3 linked regions of the Homo sapiens genome follow. The protein of the gene in region 2 purifies or fractionates together with the protein of the main gene of each other region. This does not show direct contact. Each region holds a gene or a part of one and is shown on either strand. Other genes may lie near its edges.

Region 1 (7,838 bases), on a different chromosome or scaffold from region 2:
GTGCCTCATGCCTGTAATCACAGCACTTTGGGAGGCTGAGGAGGGTGGATCACCTGAGCTCAGGAGTTCGAGACCAGCCTGGTGAACATAGTGAAACCCCAACTCTACTAAAAATGCAAAAATTAGGCAGGCATGGTGGCATGTGCCTGTAATCCCAGCTACTCGGGAGGCTGAGGCAGGAGAATCACTTGAACCCGGGAGGTGGAGGTTGCAGTGAGCCAGGATCTCGCCACTGCACTCTAGCCTGGCAACAGACTGAGACTCTGTCTCAAAAAAAATACAAAAAAAGAGCTTTCTCAGACCAATCCCGGCAAAGAGGAGACAAGGTAGGGATGCTCACTTTTATCTTTCCGGCTCCTGTGAAATCCAAGCTGAGAATCTTTGTTGAGTCCCATCCCCCAGACTTTCGTAACATCCGCAGTCTTAGAGGACAGCAGTGTGAATCCATAGCCGCAAGCAGCAGATGAAATCTGAAAAGCAGTTCCCACAAAGCATGAACTGATTTATAATGTCAAGTTTGTTCAGTAGTAAATGACAGGTTATTTATCAAATCCAAGAACACATACTATTTACGGGGGTTTTGTTTTTGTTTTTGAGACAGTCTCACTCTGTTGCCCAGGCTGGAGTGCAGTGGCGCAATCTCGGCTCACTGCAATCTCCATCTCCCAGGTTCAAGCCTCCCAAGTAGCTGGGACTACAGGTGTGCACACCACGTCTGGCTAACTTCTGTATTTTTAGTAGAGACAGAATTTCACTATGTTGGCCCAGGTGATCTCAAATTCCCGGCCTCAAGTGATCTGTCCGCCTTGGCTTCCCAAGGTGCTGGGACTATATGCGTCAGCCACCGTGCCTGGCCCAAGAACACATATTATTAAGACAGCAACTAGCATTTATTGAGCATTTACTATATGTTTGATAAGTATTATCTCATTTAATCTTTATAATCACTCTATGAAGGGTGATTTACACATAGACCATAAATATAGTCTATTTATGGTCTATGTCAGCTTACCACTAGGTATTACCATCCCCATTCACCAAGATCAAGACACTATCTAGCAGCAGCCGAGTACGGTGGCTCACACCTGTAATCCCAGCACTTTGGGAGGCTGAGGCAGGCAGATCACTTGAGGTCAGGAGTTTGAGACCCGCTTTGGCCAACATGGTGAAACCCCATCTCTACTAAAAATACAAAAATTAGCTAGGCATGGTGGCGTGCGCCTGTAATCTCAGCTACTCGGGAGGCAGGAGAAGTGCTTGAACCTGGGAGGCAGAGGTTGCAGTGAGCCAAGATGGCGCCACTGCATTCCAGCCTGGGTGACAGAATAAGACTCTGTCTCAAAAACAAAACAAAACAAAACAAAACAAAAAACACCACCATCTCTTAGCGCGGTAGGTAAGTTGACAGATCTCCTTAGTTTTGAATCCTGGCCCCATCCTTACCAACTGTGTGATCTGAGATAGATTACTTTACCTCTATATCTGTTTCTCCTTCTCTAAAAAGTAAAGATGATAATAGTACCATCTCTCTCACTAAGCTGTTGTGAAGACTAAACGAGTTAATATAGCTAAAGCCCTTATAGGGAATAGTACCCATCTCAAGGTAAGAGCTATATTTTGAGCCTAGGCAACAAAGTGACAACCTGTCTCTATGAAAAAATCAAAATTTAAGCTTGGTCCCAGCTACATGGGAGGCTGAAGCAGGAGGATCACTTGAATCCAGGAGGTCGAGGCTGCAGTGACCCATGATCACGCCACTGTACTCCAGCCTGGGCAACAGAGCCAGATCAAAAAAAAAAAACAAACCTATATTTTGTACTCTATTTTGTATTTTAAATTTATACATATACATATACATATACATATATATATATATATATATATATATATATGGAGAGAGAGAGAGACAGAGAGATGAGTTCTCACTGTGTTACCCAGGCTGGTCTCAAACTCTTGAACTCAAATGATCCTCCTGCCTTGGCCTCCCAAAGTGCTGAAATTACAGGCATGAGCTACCGCACCTGGCCTATATTGTATGCTTTTTGTTGTTGTTGTTTAGTTTTTGTTATTGCTTTTGTTATTATATTTTCTATTTCTTATTGCTGTTAGCAGTAGTATAAGGCAGATGAGAAAGTGTGGCTTCTAAAGGTTGAGTAACTTGACTGCATGCTTTTCACTGACACTACACCGTTACGTACTCAGGCTATTACCATGAAAAGGAAAACTCAGTACTACAGCTACTGTGAATTTAACACAGTGACAACCCCAAGGTCTTTGTTGGGTGTTTTAACTACACTCTCATCAATCCTCCCTTCACTGACCCGATGAGAAAACCGGGGCTTCCAGTGAGGTTGGATATAGACCAAAGATGGTTTGATTTTAAAATCAATCCTCTTTCAGCCAGGCACAGTGGCTCACGCCTGTAATCCCAGCACTTTGGGAGGCCAAGGCGGGCGGATCGCTTGAGTTCAGTTCAAGACCAGTCTAGCAAACATGGCGAAACCCCATCTCTACTAAAAATACAAAAATTTGCCGGGCTAGGTGGCAGGACGATCTCTTGAGCCCAGGAGGTCGAGGCTGCAGTGAGCTATGATGACACCACTGCACTCCAGCCTGAGCGACAGAGCGAGACCCTGTCTCTAAAAAATAAATTAAAACAAAAAAATCCCCTTTCTGAGTTGTTCATTGAAACACCTCAGCTGGTATACATTTTCAATGGACTTTTGAATTTTGCTTTCCTAACATCAGAACTCCTGCAGTCACGCTGGCCTGAGTGAGAATTCCACCGCATATAAACAGCTAGCAGCGGTGGGGCCTCGGGCCTCAACCTCTCTGGGCCTCCCCTTCCTTCCCTGTAATTGGGAATAACTGTCGACTCACTGGGTGCTAAGCGAATGACACGACCCGGCACAACATCTGGCACTGCCACCCAATAAATGTTGATGGCCACCCCTAACGCCTTCCCCTCCTGGGCTTGCAGCCAGCTCGAGGGTCGTCCTGCCGGAAGTCTGTCCACCCAGAGGAGCCAACTTCTTGAAGAGAGCCGAACAGGTCGAGGGAGGCCGGGAGCGCGGAAGAGAGAGAAGGAGAGAAGGAGGAAGCCGCGGCCTGCACCTTTTGGTCCAGCTCCAGGCGATAGGGCACGGGCTGGATCCTGCGGCGCGGTCGGGCGCCGGCGCGGGGCCCGGGCCCGGAGCTGGGCACCACAAAGGAAGGCACGCCCAGCGCCCCCGAGAAGCTGAAGCCCCACACGAAGACGCGATCGGCGCGGGCAGCGCGCTCGCCCACGTACTGGACCACGGGCACCTCCGCCTCGGCTTCTGCCGCTTCGCGCCGGCTCCGGGAGCGCCCGGCCGCCGTCCAGTGCCCTCGCCCCAGCCCCGGCCCGCTCAGCCGCCGCCCCAGCCGAGCCCCAGCCACCAACGCCACCAGCGCCATCCTCCGTTCCGCGCCTCAGCAGCCTCTGGGCGCCGCCATCTTGCGTGACCCTTAACACCAGTCCTCGCCGGAAGAGGCTACGGCCACTTTTACTCCTGGTTGAAGGCAAAGGCGCTGACGGCAGCCCAAGGCTCAGGGAGGCGTGGCGTGGCGATGGTGAGGGGCGGGGTTAGGGGCGGGATTAGGATTCTTGTCCCTTAGCGAAACTGCGTGTCCTGTTTTGCTCCCTTGCTATTGCCCCGCGACATTTCTTACCTGGCCTTGCTGCAGCCGTCTCCGCTCCGGTCTGCTCCCACGCCGCCCCAGGCCGTCCTCCAGCGACAGCGAGCTGGAGTGGACGATTCCCTGCTGCCTTCGCATCCCCTGCCCAGGTCCCCTCAAACCTATCGACAGGCTCACTGCAACCTCCCCCTCCTGGGTTCAAGTGACTCTCGTGTCTCAGCCTCCCGAGTAGCTGGGACCACAGGCGTACGCCACCACGCCCGGCTAATTTTTGTATTTTTAGTAGAGACAGGGTTTCACGATGTTGGCCAGGTTGGTTTTGAACTCCTGACCTCCAGTGATCCACCCACCTCGGCCTCCCAAAGTGCTGGGATTACAGGCATAAGCCACCGCCCCCAGCCTGTGCAGGCCTGTTTTATGGAAGATGACTGGGGAAAACCCACTAATAAAATGTGGTGACCACAAGACTGCTCATGGAAAGCCTCTTACTACAGGGAGTAAAATTCATGAAGGCACTGAAACCACCAGTCTCCCGGGCTATGAAATGTATTCTCTGCGGCGGACCCAGTCTTCCAGCACTTTGGAAGACAAAGGTGGGAGAATCACTTGAGAGTTCGAGACCAGCCTGGGCAAATAGTGGGACCCTTTCTCTACAAAAAAATTTAAAAATTAGCTCGGCGTGATGGTGTGCACCTGTGGTGCCAGCTACTTAGGAGACTGAGGCAGGTGGATGGCTTAAGCCCAGGAGTTCGAGGCTGCAGTGAGCCATGATTGCACCACTGCACTCCAGCCAGGACAGCAGAGTGAGACCCTGTCTCTGAAAAAAAAAAAAATTAAATTAAATGTAAATATAAAAGTAAAAATAAATGTGTCTATGGACCCGCCTGGTAGTAAGTTCCCTGCCACCATTTGGGATAGATAAACTTAGCCATTCACATCGGTCCCCTTACCCTGTCTCGACCCAGCCAGTATTCAATCAGAACACACACTGTTTGCCACATGGAATTGTAGATGCTAGTGCCACCTTCAAAGATGTAAAAGATTCAGAGGGGTGGTGATTCCTATCCAATGGGTAGCTCCCCATTGAGTTCACCTGTTTGGCTCCTAAAAAAACTGATGGATTGGCCAGGCATAGTGGCTCACACCTGTAATCCCAGCATTTTGGGAGGGCAAGGCAGGCACATCACGAGGTCAAGAGATGGAGACCATCCTGGCCAACATAGTAAAACCCCATTTCTACTGAAAATACAAAAATTAGCTGGGCGTGGTGGAACGCACTGTAGTCTCAGCTACTTGGGAGGCTGAGGCAGGAGAATAGCTTGAACCCGGGAGGCGGAGGTTGCAGTGAGCCGAGATCGCACCACTGCACTCCAGCCTGGCGACAGAGCGAGGCTCCGTCTCAAAAAATAAAAAAAGATGGACTGTGGTAGGGGACAGGGGACCACCATACATTTAGGCAAGTGCATGGTCCAACTCATAGCTGCTGTGTCAAGCGTGCCGTCTGTTTTTTTGTTCGTTTGTTTGTTTTTTGAGACAGAGTCTCAGTCTATCACCCAGGCTTGAGTACGGTGACATGATCTCGACTCACTGCAACCTCCGCCTCCTGGGTTCAAGCAATTCTCCTGCCTCAGCCTCCCAAGTAGTTGGGATTACAGGCGTGCACAACCACACCCGGTTAATTTTTTGTATTTTTAGTAGAGACGGAATTTCACCATGGTGGCCATGACTGGTCCCCAACTCCTGACCTCAGGTGATCTGCCCGCCTCCACCTCCCAAAGTGCTGAGATTACAGGCCTGAGCCACCGCGCCCAGCCATGGCATCTGTTTTACCAGAAGAGATCAACACACCCTCTGAAACATGATACAGGACACTGATCTGGTGAGTGGGTTCTTTTCAATCCCTAACAGAAAAGAGGACCAAAAACAGTTTGCCTCTGCGTGAAGGAAAGCATTACTCATGAACTCTCCCACTGTCTCACTCCCGACACCACCCACATTAAGTATCTGTTACAAGACCTTGTCTCCAGCCGGGCGCGGTGGCTCATGCCTGTAATCCCAGCACTTTGGAAGGCTGAGGTGGGCGGATCACGAGGTCAGAAGTTTGAGACCAGTCTGGCCAACATAGTGAAACCCTGTCTCTACTAGAAATATGCAAAAAATTAGCTGGGTGTGGTGGTGTGTGCCTGTAATCCCAGCTACTCAGGAGGCTGAGGCAGGAAAATCATGTGAAACCGGGAGGCGGAGGTTGCAGTGAGCCGAGATCGTGCCCCTGCACTCCAGCCTGGGCGACAGAACGAGACTCCATCTCAAAACAAAAAAACAAAAAAAACTTATCTCCGTCTCTATTCCTTTATTCCTTATCTCTGTCTTTATTCCTTTATTTTTTATTTTTTTGAGACGGAGTTTCACTTTTGTTGCCCAGGCTGGAGTACAGTGGCGTGACCTCAGCTCACTGCATCCTCCACCTCCTGGCTCAAGCGATTCTCCTGCCTCAGCCTCCTGAGTAGCTGGAATTACAGGCGCCCACCACCACGCCCGGCTAATTTTGTTTTGTATTTTTAGTAGAGACGGGGCTCCACCCTATTGGCCAGGCTGGTCTCGAACTCCTGAACTCAGGTGATCCACCCGCCTCGGCCTCCCAAAGTGCTGGGATTACAGGCATGAGCCACCGTGCCCGGCCTATTTATTCATTTATTTACTCATTTTTTAGAGACAGAATTTGGCTGCACTTGAGTTGATAAATCTGAGACATATATTGATAAAGGACAATTATGTAAATATTATAAATATAGTTAATATTAATAGTTAATATAGGGAATATTTATATATTTACGAAATGCATACACAGTTCAGCTGGGTGGAGTGGCTCATGCCTATAATCCCAGCACTTTGGGAGGCTAAGGCAGGAGGACTGCTTGAGCCCAGGAGTTCGAGACCAGCCTGGGCAACATAACAAGACCTTGTCTGTATACAAAATTTAAGAATTAGCCTGGCATGTTGGAGCCCACCTGTGGTCCCAGCTACTTGGGAGACTGAGGTGGGAGGATTCTTGAGCCTGGGAGGTCGAGGCTGTAGTGAGCTGCATTTGCACCACTGCACTCCGGCCTGGGTGACAGAACAAACCCTGTCTCAAAAAAAAAAAAAAAAAGAAAGAAAGAAAAGAAAAATTTTGAACTGAACTTTCATAAGCAGGACTGTCCTTTTATCTGAGTTTGTGTCCTTTCTAGTTTTTTGGTTTTCAACATCTGATTTTTTTGTTTTTTCAAAGTCTGGCTTTTTCATCAAGGCTGGAGTGCAGTGGCACAGTCTCGGCTCACTACAACCTCCGCCTCCTGGGTTCTAAGTGATTCTCCTACCTCAGCCTCCCAAATAGCTAGGATTACAGGCACCCACCACAATGCCTGGCTAATTTTTGTATTTTTAGTAGAGACGGGGTTTCACTATATTGGCCCGGCTGGTCTCGAACTCCTGACCTCAGGTGATCCACCTCCTGACCTCAGGTGATCCACCTCCTGACCTCAGGTGATCCACCTGCCTTGGCCTCTGTAAGTGCTGGAATTACAGGCGTGAGCCATCCCACCTGGCTCAACGTCTGGTCTTTTACAAACTCATAATGACAATAGGATAGTAGGTTTTAAAATTTTTTTTACTTGTCAATATTTTAATAACCCTATGTGAGTTTCTCAAATTTCTAAAACATTTTACTATTAGGGGATATCCAAAGGACACAAGCCTTGGTTTAGTATTTTGAAGATAAAAGGACAAACTGCAATGTGAACCGCAGCCACGGGGTGGCAATACTTACCCACCAATTCTGTCTCCTATGAAAGGCTAAAACATCCTAAACGTCTATTTGGCCAATAAAGAGCTGGATTTGTAGCCACAACTGGGCTTTTCTATTTTGCTATCAAAACTTGGTTGGTTTTGTAGACTGCTTCTGTGCTAGAAAATACTTACTTTTCTGGCTTGGCGTGGTGGCTCACGCCTGTAATCCCAGCACTTTGGGAGGTCGAGGCAGGTAGATCACCTGAGGTCAGGAGTTCAAGACAAGCCTGGCCAACATGGTGAAATGCTATCTCTACTAAAAATACAAAAAAAAAATTAGCCGGTCGTGGTGGCAGGTGCCTTTAATCCTAGGTACACAGGAGGCTGAGGCATGAGAAATGCTTGAACCCAGG
Region 2 (8,573 bases):
GGCCTTCGTAGTGGAGTGAATCCTGAGCGTGGTGGCCGTCCTCGTCCCAGCCCTCAGTCACTCGTAGGCGCACTCCGGGCCACATGTTCATCACGGCAATGGCCAAAGCGTTCACCCGCTCCTTACAACGCTGGCGGGGAATAAAGGAGTCAGTCTCCCCACCACCACCCTTGGGGCAAAAGGGACCTGGATAGGAGGGTTGATTCTTTGTTATTCCGGCCCTACTCTTACCCCTCCCAGCTTTTGAGTGTCCTGGAGAAATGAGAATCTGAGTCGATGGTAGTCACCAATCTGCACTCTGTTCCCAGGACGTCGTTGGAGAACTGTGGGCTCACCTCTGAGGTTGAGAGGGGGTGCCCATACCTAGCTCCTTCCCCATTTTTAATGCCCGTCCCTCACCCCTATTGGTTCAGGGACAGCGGCTCAACCTGGGAGAAGGACAGAGTTAGGAGGGCGAATGGAAGCGTGGTCAGGGAGGGCCTGGTTGCTCCCGGAGAGCCCCTGTTTGAGCCTGGCCCCCGCCCCAGGCACCGGCTCCCCTCCCTCCGCCTGATTCATCTTTTGTTTCATTGCCTTCCCTGGCACCGGGCATCGCTTCCTTCCTTCCTTCCTCCTCCTCCTTTGGGCCCTTAGCATTAACCCCTTCGTGCTCTGGGTGCCCCCCAGAGAGGTGCCCAAGAGGAGCTGTGCGGGATCAAGGCTGCTGGAAAAAGGATTGGGGTGGCGGGGGTTGCGCGAAGTACAATGGCCATTATCCGGGATGACTTAACCGAGCGAGAATCCTGAGCCCAGGCCGGGAACGCGCTGGGAGAAGCGGACTCAGCAGCTCCGGCCACAAAGGCGCTTTTCAGCCGCCCCGGCTCAGGGAGAGGAAAGGGCAGAAAGCCGCGCCCCCAATCCCTGCTCCGTCCGGGTAGGTCCCCTCCCCCCGCGCGTCCAGTCTTCCCAGTTCCAGCTAAGGCTCTGCCAGTCCGGAGAGCCCCTATCTCTCCCATCTCTGCTCTAGATGCAGCCCAGAAGGGCGTGGGAGTAGCACCTGAGAATAACGGTCTCCTTGTGCGGATCTGGGGAGCCCCCTGCAGGGTGAGAGCGGAGAAGAGGAAAAGAAGCTGCGGCTGGAAGCCTGCACCTGGGGGAGTGAGACCACAGTTATCTTGGCCGCTCCAGCCTGGGAGCGGGAGACCTTGGCGCGCACCATAGCAGGGACACCGCGGGAGGAGGCGCAGAGGGACAGCTTCCTTTTTTTCTTTCCCCTCCGACCTCTCACCTCGGACTTGGTTTTCTCCTAACAGAAAGACACTTTTCCCCTCTCCTCTAGTCTCCTCCACCCCGCAGAGTTGGGGTTGGGTGGGGGGAAAACAGGAAAAGTGGTAGCTCCTTCCAACTTTGTCGTTTCGTCCCCTAAGGAGGCCCCGAGGCCCTGACCTGCGGGGGCAGCAGCCCAGTGCAGAGCCAACTCAATGGAGGCCTTTTGCAGCCAGGGTGTGGGAGATAAGTAAGACTGAGGGGGCTCCCAGGCCTGCCGGAGCCCCTCCTGAGCCTGTCCCTTGTTCTGCCCACTCTGCTGCAGGTGGCAACCAGAGGAAAGGGCCACAATGTTCCACGGCCAAGGAGGAAAGAAGGAATGCCCCTTTTCCCATCTCTAGGTAGGAGGAAGGCTTCAGGGCAGAAGCAAAAGGAATTATTTCTTCCCTGGACAGGTTTTCCTAACAAAGTAACCTGGAAAACTATGGCAATTAATCAGAGGAAATCCGTACCCCTCCCTCTCCCCCCACCTCCCCACTCCATACACAATTAGGTGGTGTAATGGAAAGTATATAGGGCTTAGAATCAGGAGTCCTGAATTCTAGTCCCAGCCATGCCACTTTAAATTGTGAGAGTTTAAATTGCTTTTCCTCCTGGGGGAAGTCCAGCTCTCAGATGTAAAATGAGGGTGGCAGTGGGGGTGGGGAGGGTTGGAGGAATGTCATCTCTCAAGTTTTCTTTCAGTTCTAACATTCAAGATCACTGGCCAGGCTGGATGAAGTGGCTCACACCTGTAATCCAGCACTTTGGGAGGCCGAGGTGGGAGGATCCCTTGAGCTCAGGAGTTCAAGACTAGCCTAGGCAACATGGCAAGACCCCGTCTCTACAAAAAATAAAAAATAAATCACTCGCCAGAGGTGGTCCTTCTCTTCCACCTCACTCTAGGTGGTTCCAATGCTCAAAAATGGTAGTTGAATTTATCCTAATTATGTAATTCCAAGGAAAGCCCCTGAGATAGGCAGAGCTTGGAAGACTTAGGAGCCCTCTGATTCTCAGGTGGGTCCATCTGTTATTCTCACTGAGGATTACTTTTTAACCCCAAGATTATCGTTTAGACCCTAGGATAGCCCTAGAATAGACCCTAGAATAGATGTGTCCTGGTTCTAGGACACGTTTCCCATGCCAAAAGCAATGTCTGCCCAGCCCCTCCTCAGGTAGATGGTCTGGTGACCTGACCCTTGGCCACCCCTGTCCCAGCCCTTTTCAGTCTCTTCTTTTCGGCCCACAGAGCTTTTCTACAATCAGGTCAGGAGCCAGGCTTCTGTCTGCTACCTAGCCAGCTCCTGGCCCCCAGCTCACCCCAGCCCTTCCTGCCTGGCTGGGTGGCTGACCCCCGGTCCACGCCTCAGCCATTTCCCGTCTCGCCTGCCGCCATCCTCCTTTCCCCGCCCTCGCTGCCTCTACCAGCTTCACTCTCACTAGTCAGTCCCTCCTCCCCTCCCCATCCCAGACTATTCTAGTCGGGAGCCGTCCTAATTACTCTGTCCAGACTGCAAGGATTTTTCCCCCCCCTGGGGCTGGTGACAAGGGAAATCTCTAAGGCTAAACTCTCTGTAGGTGAAGCTGGACTCACCCACCTGGGCTGCCATAGGAAAACGGAGGAGCTGGCAGTGCCCCGGCGCAGGTAGGGAGAGGCCCTCCTTACCTCGGTCATCAGGCGGTCGGCTCCACTGTTCTCCTCATCCTTGAAGATGATGTCGGGGTTGTAGTTGGGCACGAGGTCCCGGAAGCGCTCGGAGCCCCTTGCCACCCTCCCCTCCGCTGGCCCACTGGCGCCCAGGGTCCGCTCTGGCACGCCGGGCACAAATTGCTTGTAGAGTAGCGGCACGAGCTGCTTGCGCGCATAGCGGCGCCGGCCAACCGGCCCCCGGCCCGGCCCGCAGCTCTGGGCTGGCAGCGCCAGAAGTGCCAAGCAGCACAGGGGCAGTAGATTGGTCAGGAGAGCCATGGATACAGCGGACCTCGGCCAAAAGGGAGCGTTCTTGTCCTCACTAACTCTCCTGTCAGTTAGGCATCTCCACAGGCACCAGAGAGGGCAGCAGGCACAGCTGCCCCCAGAGTGCCCTAGAGCTCTTGTGGCTCCGTGCACCTGGCTGCTGCTAGCTCTGCCCACGTGCCCCGGGAGCGGGCGGGGGGTGTCTAGGACCTGCTACTGACAAACCATCATAGCAGGGAAGGGGGGTCGTGGGTGAGTGCCAGCCCAGCCCGTCTCTGCTGCAGGACTCTGGTGCTGCCAGAACGCCCGGACTCCGGACTCCGCCTTAAGTGGCCCCTGGCCCCGCCCTCCGCCCTTCTCCCAAGACCGTCCCACCCCCTCCCACCCGGGCGGGGGATCTAGCCGGTCACTGCTGGTCCATTTTGCGACTGAAGTGTGTCCCATCCTGGAAACCAGGCAGACACCTGCCTAGGAAATACTTGTAGCTTTACAGTCCTTGGCTGCCTAAACATCCTTCTACCTCCAAGCTTAAACTTGGAACCAAACCACCCTCCTCTGATACTTGAATTGGAATTTTTACTCTCTCAAAGCCTACCCTGGCAGGCCATGCCCTCCGCTGTCATCCAGGAAGTATGGGTTCCAATTTCTGCCCAAGACCAGCCAAGCCCTTTGGGCATACAACCAGAGCCTCCCTTCTCTGTAGTCCTCCCCAGATCTCCCCGACTTCCATCTCTCCTCACATTCAGCATTAAGCAGGACTGGGAGGTGAGGATACCAGGGGCCCATTTCTCTACTAACTTTGCAGTCTCCTTTGGAACTTCCCCAGAACCAGGAACAGAGCTTGGTACTTATTGTCTCATTTAGGACTTCCAACTTTTTTCCCCTTCTCTTCTTTGCCAGGCATCTAATAGCTGCTGTTTTTCAAATGAATGACTTCTCAGTTGGAAGCTGCTGAAGGGCAGTGGACACTCAAAAGTCTTTGTAAGAGGTGAGGATCACTTCCCTTAACCGTCCATCTAGGCACCTCTCCAGCTTTCTCCCTCTCTGGACTCCCGGGGCTCCATTTTCAGCCACTCAGATCTCATCTCAGAGGCACCACGTCCAATTTCTTTTGTTTAGAAGTCATTTCTTCTAAGAAGCCTTCCTTGATGTCCCAACACTGCCCACCTGTGTTCCCTCGAGAACCATTACTTAACTGCAGTGTTAGAACAGTATTAGAATTATCTGGCACCTTACTAGACAAAGCAATCTTAAGCACACACATATTTATCATGTATCTCCAAGGTTAAGTGCCTACTCTACAGAAGGGTGCTTTGCAAGCATTTGTGGAATCTACACTTTGTGTTTCATATTCACCCTCCCCTCACCACACTCTATGGCTAGTACTCATAGCAACTTTGTGTACATCAGAAAAAACCAGGCCAGGCACAGTGGCTCACTCCTGTAATCCCAACACTTTGGGGGCGAGGCAAGGACTGCTTGAGGCCATGAGTTGAAGACCAACTTGGTCAACATAGTGACACCCCGTTTCAAAAAAAAAAAATTAATTAGTGGGAGGTAGTGGTACATGCCTGTAGTCTTAGGTACTCAGGAGGCTGAGGAAGGAGGATCACTTGGGTGCAAGAGTTCAAGGCTGTAGAGTGAGCTAAGATCATGCCACTGCACTCTAACCTGGGTGACAGAGTGAGGACCCCCCCCCCCAAAAAAAAGATGGCTGGGTGTTGTGGCTAACCCCTGTAATTCCATCATTTGGGGAGTCCAAGGTAGGTGGATCACTTGAGCTCAGGAGTTCAAGACCAGCCCAGGCAACATGGCAAAACCCCATCTCTACTAAAAATACAAAAATTAGCCAGGCATGGTAGCATGTGTCTGTTGTCCTAGCTATTCTGGAGCCTGAGCTGGAAGAATGGCTTGAGCCCAGAATGCGGAGGTTGCAGTGAGCTGAGATTGCACCACTGCACTCCAGCCAGGGTGATAGAGCCAGACCTTGTCTCACAAAAAAAAAAAAAAAAAAAAGAAGAAGAAAAAAGAAAAAAAAAGCACCCCTTCCTCAAGATGACTGACATTTATTAGAAAACTATCATAGTAACTATCCACACAATGACTATGAGGTGAATGGTGTCCCTGGAAGCTGTGCAATACACAATCTGTATAAGCCTAAGTTTTGCGCTCTTACTCCCAACATAGCACATGGGCTTTTCAAGAAACTGATGGCCTCTAGTAAAAAGCTAGATTCTTCTCTCAGGTAGGAAATGAAAATCCTTGTCAGCCAGCCACTTATTTTACTCTATATCCAATAGTTAAGCCAGGGAGGATAGGGCTGAAGGTATGAGTGTATCGGGGAGGTTAGCCTACTCCTATGCCCATGTCCTACCCCCAATACTCAAGGTACAGAAACAAGGCCATGAATATAAGGAGGAGTCAGGGGACAAGCCAGCTTTAAGCAAGACTGAGGATGGAGGAGTTTCCCACTGCCCAACTGCATGGCCTAACACCAGATCCAAGTCCCCAAAGGATGGTAATAATATAGATGAAGGGGAAGGAAAAGGATGGTGGGCAGGACCCCTCTGCTTCTCTTACTGGGCAGACGCCGGGCTGGTGGGAGCAAGGCTGTTCAAATATACACAGAGACAGGTGCTTTAAAAAAACAAAGCAAACCCTGGGATCAACTTTATTGCTGATGGCTGAAGCCTCCTCCTCCCTATCCCCTTGGTCTTTCAGGTGGTCCAAAGCCCCTCCAGGATAGCACAGTGCTTAGGCTCTGCTGGGCCAGAGGCAAGGGAGACAATCTATCTCCCGAGCCTGCCCTGGCCCAGTCCTTTCCCTGCCCCTACCCCACCCTATTGCACATCAAATCATGTAAACATGGCTATGGGGATGGCCCAGAACAGCAGTGAGGCAGATTGATGTGTAAACAGATTTGGGATCAGGGGCTAGACCCAGTCACCCAGCCCTACCCCATGCTGAGGCCACAGTTAAGTATGGAAAAGCAGGAGGTCCTGGTCCCAAACTCTGGCTCAGATTATGCAATAGTGCAGATGGCTCTGCTCCCCTCTGCCACCCACCCTCTCAGATTCCAGGTCCTGAGGTCCAAGTAGCCTTGGGCTTCCCTCCAGGCCTAGGCAGCAGATGGCAGTGTCCAGTTTTTTCCTTCCCACCCCCAGCTGGAGGTCACTGGTGCTGGGTCTTCCTAGATGCCTGGGGGAAACCGGAGACGGGCAGCGGCAGTCTGTCCAGCCCTGGAGAAGAGGAGATGGGCAGTCAAAAGCAAGTCAAAGGTCCAGTCCGTTAGGGACCAGGCAGCCAAGCCACAGAATGTGTGGATGAGGTACGTTACCCACAAAGCAGGAAGCACACCCTCTCCCCTGCTGGGGTGATCCATGTTCCAGAGTGTCCTAGATGATTACCACCCCCCACTAGCCTGCACCCTCACTCCCTCTCACCAAAGGCCCGGATCAGCTCTGCCCGCACAGCTGCAGTGAAGGTCTTCACCAGACAGAGTGTGGTGAGGCCTGCAAAGGCTGCGTTGTAGAGGAACACAATGTAGAAATTGCCCAGCCAGTTGAAGCGTCCAAAGTCACCCAGCAGGTCAAAGCGAGTGAGCCCTGAAGCACAAAGGCCAGGATGAGAGGTGGGCTCCCCAGGCCCTTTTCTGCTACCAGCCCAACTTTCTGCTGCCTCCTGGTGGCCACATTTCAACACTGCAACTGATAGGTTGGCCTCTCCCAATTCTACCACCCAAGCTGTCTCAAGAGCAGTTCGGGACTGTTCTAAGTGCCAGCAGCTAGGCTTGCTTCAACTTCGCTTCCAGAGTCTGGTATCTTCTCCTCCAGTGAGGCCTCCTCTGGCTCCTGGTGTCCCCAGGAACTCCCAGGGCCTACTACTTGTTCCTGGGCCTGGAATAAGCAGTTTGCCAAGTTTTTTTTAGTAGACAGAACAGTGTGGTTGCTGGGCGCTCATACTCATCAGGCTGCTTTGGTTCATATCCCAACTCCACCCCTAACTAGCTGCGTGATCTGGGGCAATTTCCTTAAATTTTCTGTGCCTCAGTTTCCTAAGAATTAAATGAGACAACACACATAAAGCACTGTCTGTGCCAGGCACTATTCTAACATTTACTGGTCCCCTCATAATATTATCATAAATCAAAAAACTCTGCTCTCCACCTTTAAATATTCTTACCTGCATCCACCCTAAAGGAACTAACTGGAAGACCCACAAACCTACTTTCTTACAAATTCTCCTGGCATAAATACAAATGGTAGAGTGGAAATAATATAACGTTAAGAATGAAATAGAGCTGTTTTTTGTTTTGTTTAATTTGGTTTTGTCTTAAGACAGGGTCTTGCTCTGTTGCCCAGGTTGGAGTGCAGTGGCACAGTCTTAGCTCACTGCAGCCTCAAACTCCTGGGCCCAAGCAATCCTCCTGCCTCAGTCTCACACATAGCTAGGACTATAGGTGTGCTAATTAAAAACACTTTTTTTTTTTTTTTTGGTAGAGATGGGGTCTCACTATATTGCTCAAGCTGGTCTAGGACTCCTGGCCTCAAGTGATCCTCCCACCTTGGCCTCCCAAAGTGCTAGGATTACAGGCGTGAACCACCAGGCCTGGCTCACAGCTGATTTTTTTTTTTTTTTTTTTCTGAGACAGAGTCTCGCTCTGTCACCCAGGCTGGAGTGCAGTGGTACCATCTTGGCTCGCTGCAACCTCCACCTCCCAAGCTCAAGCAATTCTCATGCCTCAGCCACCTCCCAAGCTCAGCAATTCTCATGCCTCAGCTGAGATTACAGGCATGTGCCACCATACCTGGCTAATTTTTATATTTTTCATAAAGATGGGGTTTCACCATGTTGGCTAGGCCGGTCTTGACCTCCTGGCCTCAAGCTGATCTGTCCACCTTGGCCTCCCAAAGTGTGAGATTACAGACGTGAGCCACCAGGCCTGGCCCCAGAACTGACTTAAATATGAAATCACATATAAAATACAGAGGATGATGTGGTATTTAGGGGGAGGTAGGAGGGCGGCTGTTACCTCTGCAGCTCACACACTACCTTGGGGTGAACTAGTTACACTCTTGAACTTTTTTTTTTTTTTTTTGAGATGAAGATTCGCTCTTGTTGCCCAGGCTGGAGTGCAATGGCGTGAGCTCAGCTCACCGCAACCTTTGCCTCCCGGGTTCAAGTGATTCTCCTGCCTCAGCTTCCCGAGTAGCTGGGACTACAGGCATGCACCACCACACCTGGCTAATTTTGTATTTTTAGTAGAGATGGGGTTTCTCCATGTTGCTCAGGCTGGTCTCGAAATCCTGACCTCAGGTGATCCGCCCGCCTT
Region 3 (7,000 bases), on a different chromosome or scaffold from region 2:
TTGGCTCAGAATAAAATTAACTTTGACTTAAATCTATAGTGGCTGTTAGAATATCCAATCACCTAAAAGAGCTAAAAGTATGTCCATGTAAAGAGCAAGAAATAGTGGAGGTCAGGGGTGGGAGGTAATAAGAGTGTGCTTTCTAGGTAGTGGTCATCTAGGGGAAAGTGAGGGTAGTGTGCTTTTTTTTCTTTTAAATAAAAAGACTTGAATTATTTGTTTCTTCAATCCACGTGCATATATAACTTTAAAAATAAACACCAATGTAATTTATTAACTAAGAAATAAAAATACTTGATGATCAAGCCAGTTGGAAAAATTAGATACTTAGCTTTTCAAAAGACTAAGAAAATCCATCACAAGCCACTGAGGCTTTAAAAGCATTGCCTCAAGAAAGCAGGATTTAAAAAAAAAAAAAAAAAGCTATATAAAACACTTAAGATATTGCCTTCAGTCCCCTGGGTGGCCATCCACCTTGTTTAAGGTCTCCAAGAGATTTAACATCAAGGAAGCTCCAACAGTATGCACTATCCAACTCCCTAACCTGTCTACCTGGAATCTCTGCCTTACACCCTACTGTTAAGCTGAGGCCAGTCTGGTTTAGAAGGAACCTTAACCTCTCTCCCTTCACCAGAGCTGGTTGCAGGCTGCCAGCATCCTGTGTCTCCAGGATTGGGAGGGTTTCCTAAGAAACCCAGCTATCCAAGCCTAAGTCCATAAAGTCCCAGGAGCATCAGTCACTCATAAATCTCATCTCCTACCCCAGTGCATAGTATCATCTTGACTAATCCAGCGAGAGATTATACACATACTCCTCCCTGCAATGGCCAGATGAGGGATGACAATTGGCTCCATCTGAGCAACTGTCTTCCCTTCCACTTCCCAAAACCTCTCTTCCCTTATCTCTCCCTATATTTAACTGGCTCCACTGCTTTCCTCCATCAGCTCCTACTATTTTATGATGTACTTGCATTACCAACACATTGCTTAATTCCTTTTAGCCTGATTTTTTTTTTCTTGAGACAGGGTCTCACTCTGTTGCCCAGGCTGGAGTGCACTGGCACAATCACAGCTCACTGCAGCTTGGACCTCCTGGGCTCAAGGGAGATCCTCCCGCCTCAGCCTCCTACATAGTTGGAACTACAGGTACAAGCCACCACACCCAGCTAATTTTTGTATTTTTTGTAGAGGCAGGCTTTCACCATAATGCCCAGGCTGGTCTTGAACTCCTGTGCTCAAGTGATCTGCCTACCTTGGCCTCCCAAAGTACTTGAGATTACAGGCATGAGCCACCACACCTGGCCTAGCCTGATTTTTTTCACCTATAAATAGGAGTAATATTCCTTGAGGAGAGAGACTACCGGGCCATCTCTGCATTCTCCGTAGTGCCTAAACTCAACATGCACTGAAATATTCACCAAGTGATTAAACAAATGCACCTAAAACTACAATTCCAAGAAGGAATCCTTGGTCAATAAACTCTCCTATTCCTGGACTCTCTGACCTAGAACAACCTTGAGGTACAAGACAAGGCCATAGGTCCACAACCCCGGGGAACCAGAAGATACAGCAGAAGCTGTCACGATGCAGATGGAAAGCAGGACATACCTGGAAGGAAGTGGGAATACAGACGAGGTTCAGATTCTCTTGCTTCACCCTTTCAGCTGTGGAAACAAAAGCCATATTGGCAGTTTTTCACTCTCCTTACTTTATTCTTCTTGTCATATGTGTTTGCTCGAAACCAACAGACAAGGGAAGGTCTATTTCCCAAAGACAGCTGCCTTTCATCCTGTGTCCCCCTCCTTGGTGGGAAAGTTGGTGACTGTACCTCACACATCAGAAGATAGGGACACAAGAAAGCCTGGAGAGGTAAGTACTGACCACAGAAAGCAGTGTCAGTGTTTGCCATTGTTATGTGCCTGACAATATTCTAAGAACTTTGTATATATGAACTCTTAATCCTAACAACCCAAAAGGTAAGTTAAATTATTTTCCGCATTTTGCAGATAAGGCAACTGAGGTTCAGAGAGGTAATGTAACTCGGTAGTTATACTGCTAATAAGGGACACAGCTGGGACATGATCCCAGGCCATGTAGCCACACAGTCTTAACTCCCCTATATTGCCTCTTCTAGGAAAAAGCCAGAACTTTACTTTTGCATTTTAGTAAAAAACATACTTATTTGTAGGCCCCAGAGAGTAGCTAAAGGAGATTTATTTTTTCAATTTGGATTTGTACCTTTCAGGAAAGTTTGATTTAAAAAAAAAAAAAAGACTTCAGGAAAAAATTCGTATTAAAATTTCAAGTCTTTTTAATCACTGAGTGCATCTTGGGAGGTTTGGGTGCCACTATTATAAAATCCATAGTAACTCCTGTGCCCTGAAAGTATTCTCCAGATACTTGGTTAAGATTGAAAGGTATATAACACAAAAGCTCCTATTTGGCCAGTGAGAAGGCTTCCAGAAGCCATCACACCAGCACTAAAACCACTCCTTGATAACAAAGTGTTCCTGGACTTTACCTCCTGGGCTCTGCCCCTTGGCACCTAGAAGAATTCAGCATTCAGGCAGGCCTCTCCTCTGGGCTTTGTTCTTACAAACAAAGAGCAGGGAAGTAAAACCTGTTGAGCAGCCATAGGGGCTGATAATTCCTGAGTCTTTCCTAAGCATAGAGACACCCTAATCAGTGTGAAATGAGCACCTGCAGGAACCAGCCATCAATGGCAGGAGTCCCACATCCACTCCAGGGTCATGGACAGGGCAAACCCACTATGGCCTCAATTATCTGCCTGAGGAAGTCTGAGCTCACGCAAAGAACTCAATGGTAGAATGCCATCAACATGATTAAAATTATATTGGGACCTCAAGCTAAGTCAGCTCCTCCCCTCCAGCTGAGCAGAGTAAACAAAGGCAAGGGCGTCCTTCAAAGTTGGATGAAGAGGCCCAAGATTCCCTCTCTCCACAAAAGAGCAGAAACACTCAACTGACCTCAGGTAGTCCCTCTCTCCAGCTCTGTACTGCTGAAGCCAAAAGGGCAATGCCAAACCTGTGTGCCACTTCCTCCCTCTCCTCTACCTCCCTACCCCATCATCACACACAAAACATCCAGTAGACAGTGAGAGAGCATACCTATTCGCTGCACAGCATGGACAATTGTAGAACCACTTCCAATTCCCAGCACTTGGTTATTCTGCCAAAAAACGGGGAAGAAAAAACAAAACTTATTAATATCATATTTTACTCCTTTGTCAGCCTACTTCCTAAAGCTATAAAATTATTATGAACAGCAATCCACCAACACAGGTACAAGACAGGTACTGTGCCTATTTTATAGGAACATAAACAATGAACCTCAATGCTGTACTTTAGCCAATCCATGGTGGACAAATGTTCAACAAGGCCCTCCTCTCTTCATTTCTGACACTGTCAACACCACCGCTTCCTCCCTACATTCTACCAAATAATTGGTGCAATTACTTGCAACTGAATAGCAACTTGCGTCACCCTCACAGAAATGGCCTGCATATAAACACTTAAAGATTCCTGACATTTCAAGCCAGCAACAGTGTGTTTAAAAAAAAAAAAAAAAGAAAGAAAGAAAGAAGAAGAAGAAAGAAAAGAAAAAGATTCCTGGCCAATCCCAGGGAGGCAATTAGAAAAACACCTAAGAAAAAACAATAGAGCCTGGAGCCTGGGTAAGGGAGGAAAGCTAAGGCTTCTGGCTTCAGTGTCTTCCATAGGCACCTTCAAGTTGGTAGCACCACAAGACACATCAGGCCCACCATCTAGAGCTCTCCCAAAGTCAGCAGATAAAGGGAGGGCCTGAAGTAACCTCAAAATAATAAAGTATGTCAGCATCTGCCTAGGTGACACCAAGGGGTGCTCATTTTGCATGAGCCTGCCTCAGAGAAAATGGAAAGAGGGCAAAGGCTTAGTTAAGAACATGAAAAATAGTCTTCATCTGCAATAGAAAGGATCATAATAAATGCAGAGCACTTCCTGAGTACAAAGTACAGGCAGACATCACAATACGGAGCCTACCTACAAGCAGACCAAACAAGAAGAAACAAAGAAGGTACCTACAAGCAGACCAAACAAGAAGAAACAAAGAAGGTACCTGCAAGCAGACCAAAGAGTAAAAGCTCAGCTGAGTCTACTAGACCACAAAGAGCAAAACGAGGCCAGGGTACTAACAGTCAGGAACTAATATGCAGCTCAGTGCCTAAGCAACTTCCTGACATCTATCTCCTGCCTTTGCAAGGCAAAGCCAAGTGAACACCAAAGCGGCAGCTACCATTTATTAAGCACCTACCAAGAAGACTTATAAATGTTAATATAAAGCCAAATCTCACAACAATCACTTATGACCTACAGAGCCACTATTTCCACTTTATAGATGAGTTCAATATTGTAAGGAAAAACTTAAGACTTTGAAATGAGCAAAAGAGACTACTGGATATCCTTCCAATGGGATGCTGGAACCTGCTTGTATTGTCTGACTCTAAGAAGGTATGTGCCTTTGTCTTTAAGATATATGACGACTGTATAGAGATACACTTTAACTTGCAGAAAACTGTTAACAAAGCAAGTAAGTTTTGTTCATTGAAATGCAAATTAATAGTGTTCTGTGAGACACAATTATTAACAGATCTTCTAAATTCATTTTAAGATTTTTTTACTACATATGAGCTTACAGTTGACTTCTCCTGTTATGCTTTGAACATCTCCACCAAAACTCACGTTGAAATTTAATTGCCATTATAACAATATTAAGAAGTGGGACCTTTAAGAGGTGATTAGGTCAGAGGGCTCCACCCTCATGGGTAGGATTGGTGCCCACCCATAGCACTTCAACATCTGTCTCTCTCACCAGATGCCAACGCCTTGATATTGGACTTCGTAGCCTCCAGAAGTATAAGCCAAAACATTTCTGTTCATTATAAATTACTCATTCTCAGGTATTCTATTATAGCAGCACAAAATGGACTAAGACACCTATGAACAGGTTCTAATAACCTTTCCAGTTCCCTCATTAATTTAGTGAGTTAAATAAAATCTTTGACATATATTTGTTTTATATATGTGTGATTTTACCTGTTTTAAATATATATACAAGATATACAATATATCTTGTATATATGTTTATAATATATATAAACTATCAATGCCCCCCCACACACACACAAACTCATCTTCAAACTCCTGGGCTCATACAATCCTACTGCCTCAGCTTCCCACATAGCTAGTACTATGGGAACATGCCACCATGCCCAGCTAATTTTTTTAATTCTTTTAAAAGACACAGTCTCACTCTGCCAACCAGGCTAGTCTCGAACTCCTGGCCTCAAGTGATCATCTCACCTCTGCCTCCCAAAGTGCTGGGATTACAGGATGAGCCATTTCAATCGAATAAGCAACTTCAGGAAGTTCAATTCGCTGAAACATCAATCTATTTCAAATTTCTTAAGATTTCCAACAACTGATTAACAATTAATTTATTTGACAAAGGAAAGCCCATAGTAAAACCTTCTTTTTAGGAAGAAGACAAGTCCTGAAGGGCCCTCAGGACAAGCAGGGCCACAACTAAAATCCTTCATTCCCCACAGGACAAAGGCCATAGGAATACTTAAAGTCAGCCCCTAGGCCTCACATTAGATATGGTCCTTCTCAAAGCCTGACTACATCTATAACTAGAAAAGATTAGAAAGAATGACCAACAAGTAGAGTTACCAAAAAAAAAAAAATCAAATACTAATGTCCCCACAACCATATACATATATACTAAAAATGCTACTATAGCCTCTCCTACCTACAGAAGACTTTATCCAACAACTTTTGTGTTATTGACCTGGTGGAAACTGCTTTTACTAGCTCACAGTTCCAAAGGCACTGAATACATCAGGGGCTTGGGCTGTCAGAACAGGGCTCGCACTAGGTCAGGATTCCACCTATACCAATGCTCTCAAGAAGGCAATGTGTGTAGTAAAGTTGTTTAGCTACCTGGACAATCCCCAAAGGCAAGGACTTCAAGACAAGTAAATGATACATCACAGTACAGAAACATTCAAAATGGCTAAATATCTCACATATAAAAATCTTCAAGGAATGAGAAAATGTCTTATCAAGGCCTATGTCTGAGTGTGGAAAAACTCAAACTTTTTCCTCTGCTCTCACACCACAACAATCATCAACACAGAAGACTTCTGTGATCAAATGTATGGGGATTTCTCCCCGTATCCCAAGCAAGCAATCTACTCTGCAGCAGACACCAGCTGGGTATCCTCCAATTCAATTTCAACACTCTCTACCTGGAGATACCATAAGGTTCCACTGGTTGAGGGCTCAGCTCCCAAGATTGCCTCCTCCTTCCTACCAAATGCAAGTCCAGGCCTCCAGAACTTCTGACTTGACAGCTTCAAGTTGGAGTTTCCACAACACTCTCTTTGGGTTTGATTAACTTGCTAGAGTGGCTCACAGAACTCAGGGAAAACATGTTTACCAGCTTATAAAGGCTATGATGAAGGATATGGATGAAGAGATGCATAGGTAAAGGCATGTAAGAAGGAGCACAGAGCTTCCATGCTCTCTCTAGGCACACCATCCTCCAGGGACCTTCACATGTTCTGCTCTCCAGAAGCTTCCAAACCCTGTCCTCTCGAGCTTTTCTTTTTCTTTTTCTTTTTTTTTTTTTTTTGAGACTTTATTGAATAGGTATGATTGGCTCTTGGAAAAGACCAGGAATTGCAAGGGCCTAGAAATGTGACTGAACAAAAAGGGCATGATCCAATACTAGCAGACTGACTGGGGAAACCCTGCAACGGCTGTCTGTTCAGATTCTTCTTCACCTGCAGCATTCCTTCCTCCAGGGTATGGAACAGGAACCCTTCTGAAATGGGGATCTTATGACGTACAAACAGACAACATAGGTCACAGAATTTCTTTACAGCCAGCTCCAAGACAGAAAAGCATTGGGGAGAGAAAGGAGCAAGTGGAAGGAGGGA

Evidence for each region.
Region 1: the proteins of DHH (region 2) and RCC1L purify together in Homo sapiens (affinity purification with mass spectrometry; 2 studies listed by BioGRID and IntAct, with this or other methods). This does not show direct contact.
Region 3: the proteins of DHH (region 2) and RPIA purify together in Homo sapiens (affinity purification with mass spectrometry; 2 studies listed by BioGRID and IntAct, with this or other methods). This does not show direct contact.

The regions. Positions count from the first base shown.
Region 1 is NC_000007.14:75,070,300-75,078,137, forward strand, and holds the start of RCC1L (RCC1-like G exchanging factor-like protein), read right to left. Parts: upstream 3,504-7,838; 5' UTR 3,439-3,503; coding exon 3,115-3,438; exon of another isoform or gene 2,881-3,114; intron 471-2,880; coding exon 341-470; intron 1-340. UniProt on the Homo sapiens protein: Guanine nucleotide exchange factor (GEF) for mitochondrial dynamin-related GTPase OPA1. Activates OPA1, by exchanging bound GDP for free GTP, and drives OPA1 and MFN1-dependent mitochondrial fusion. Plays an essential role in mitochondrial ribosome biogenesis.
Region 2 is NC_000012.12:49,091,260-49,099,832, forward strand, and holds the start of DHH (desert hedgehog protein preproprotein), read right to left. Parts: upstream 3,543-8,573; 5' UTR 3,254-3,542; coding exon 2,951-3,253; intron 2,930-2,950; exon of another isoform or gene 2,863-2,929; intron 2,160-2,862; exon of another isoform or gene 1,990-2,159; intron 1,658-1,989; exon of another isoform or gene 1,199-1,657; coding exon of another isoform or gene 1,037-1,198; exon of another isoform or gene 232-1,036; intron 131-231; coding exon 1-130. Other genes in the region: protein LMBR1L, read right to left, coding at 6,413-6,480, 6,685-6,846.
Region 3 is NC_000002.12:88,694,673-88,701,672, reverse strand, and holds part of RPIA (ribose-5-phosphate isomerase), read right to left. Parts: intron 3,190-7,000; coding exon 3,129-3,189; intron 1,665-3,128; coding exon 1,609-1,664; intron 1-1,608. UniProt on the Homo sapiens protein: Catalyzes the reversible conversion of ribose-5-phosphate to ribulose 5-phosphate and participates in the first step of the non-oxidative branch of the pentose phosphate pathway.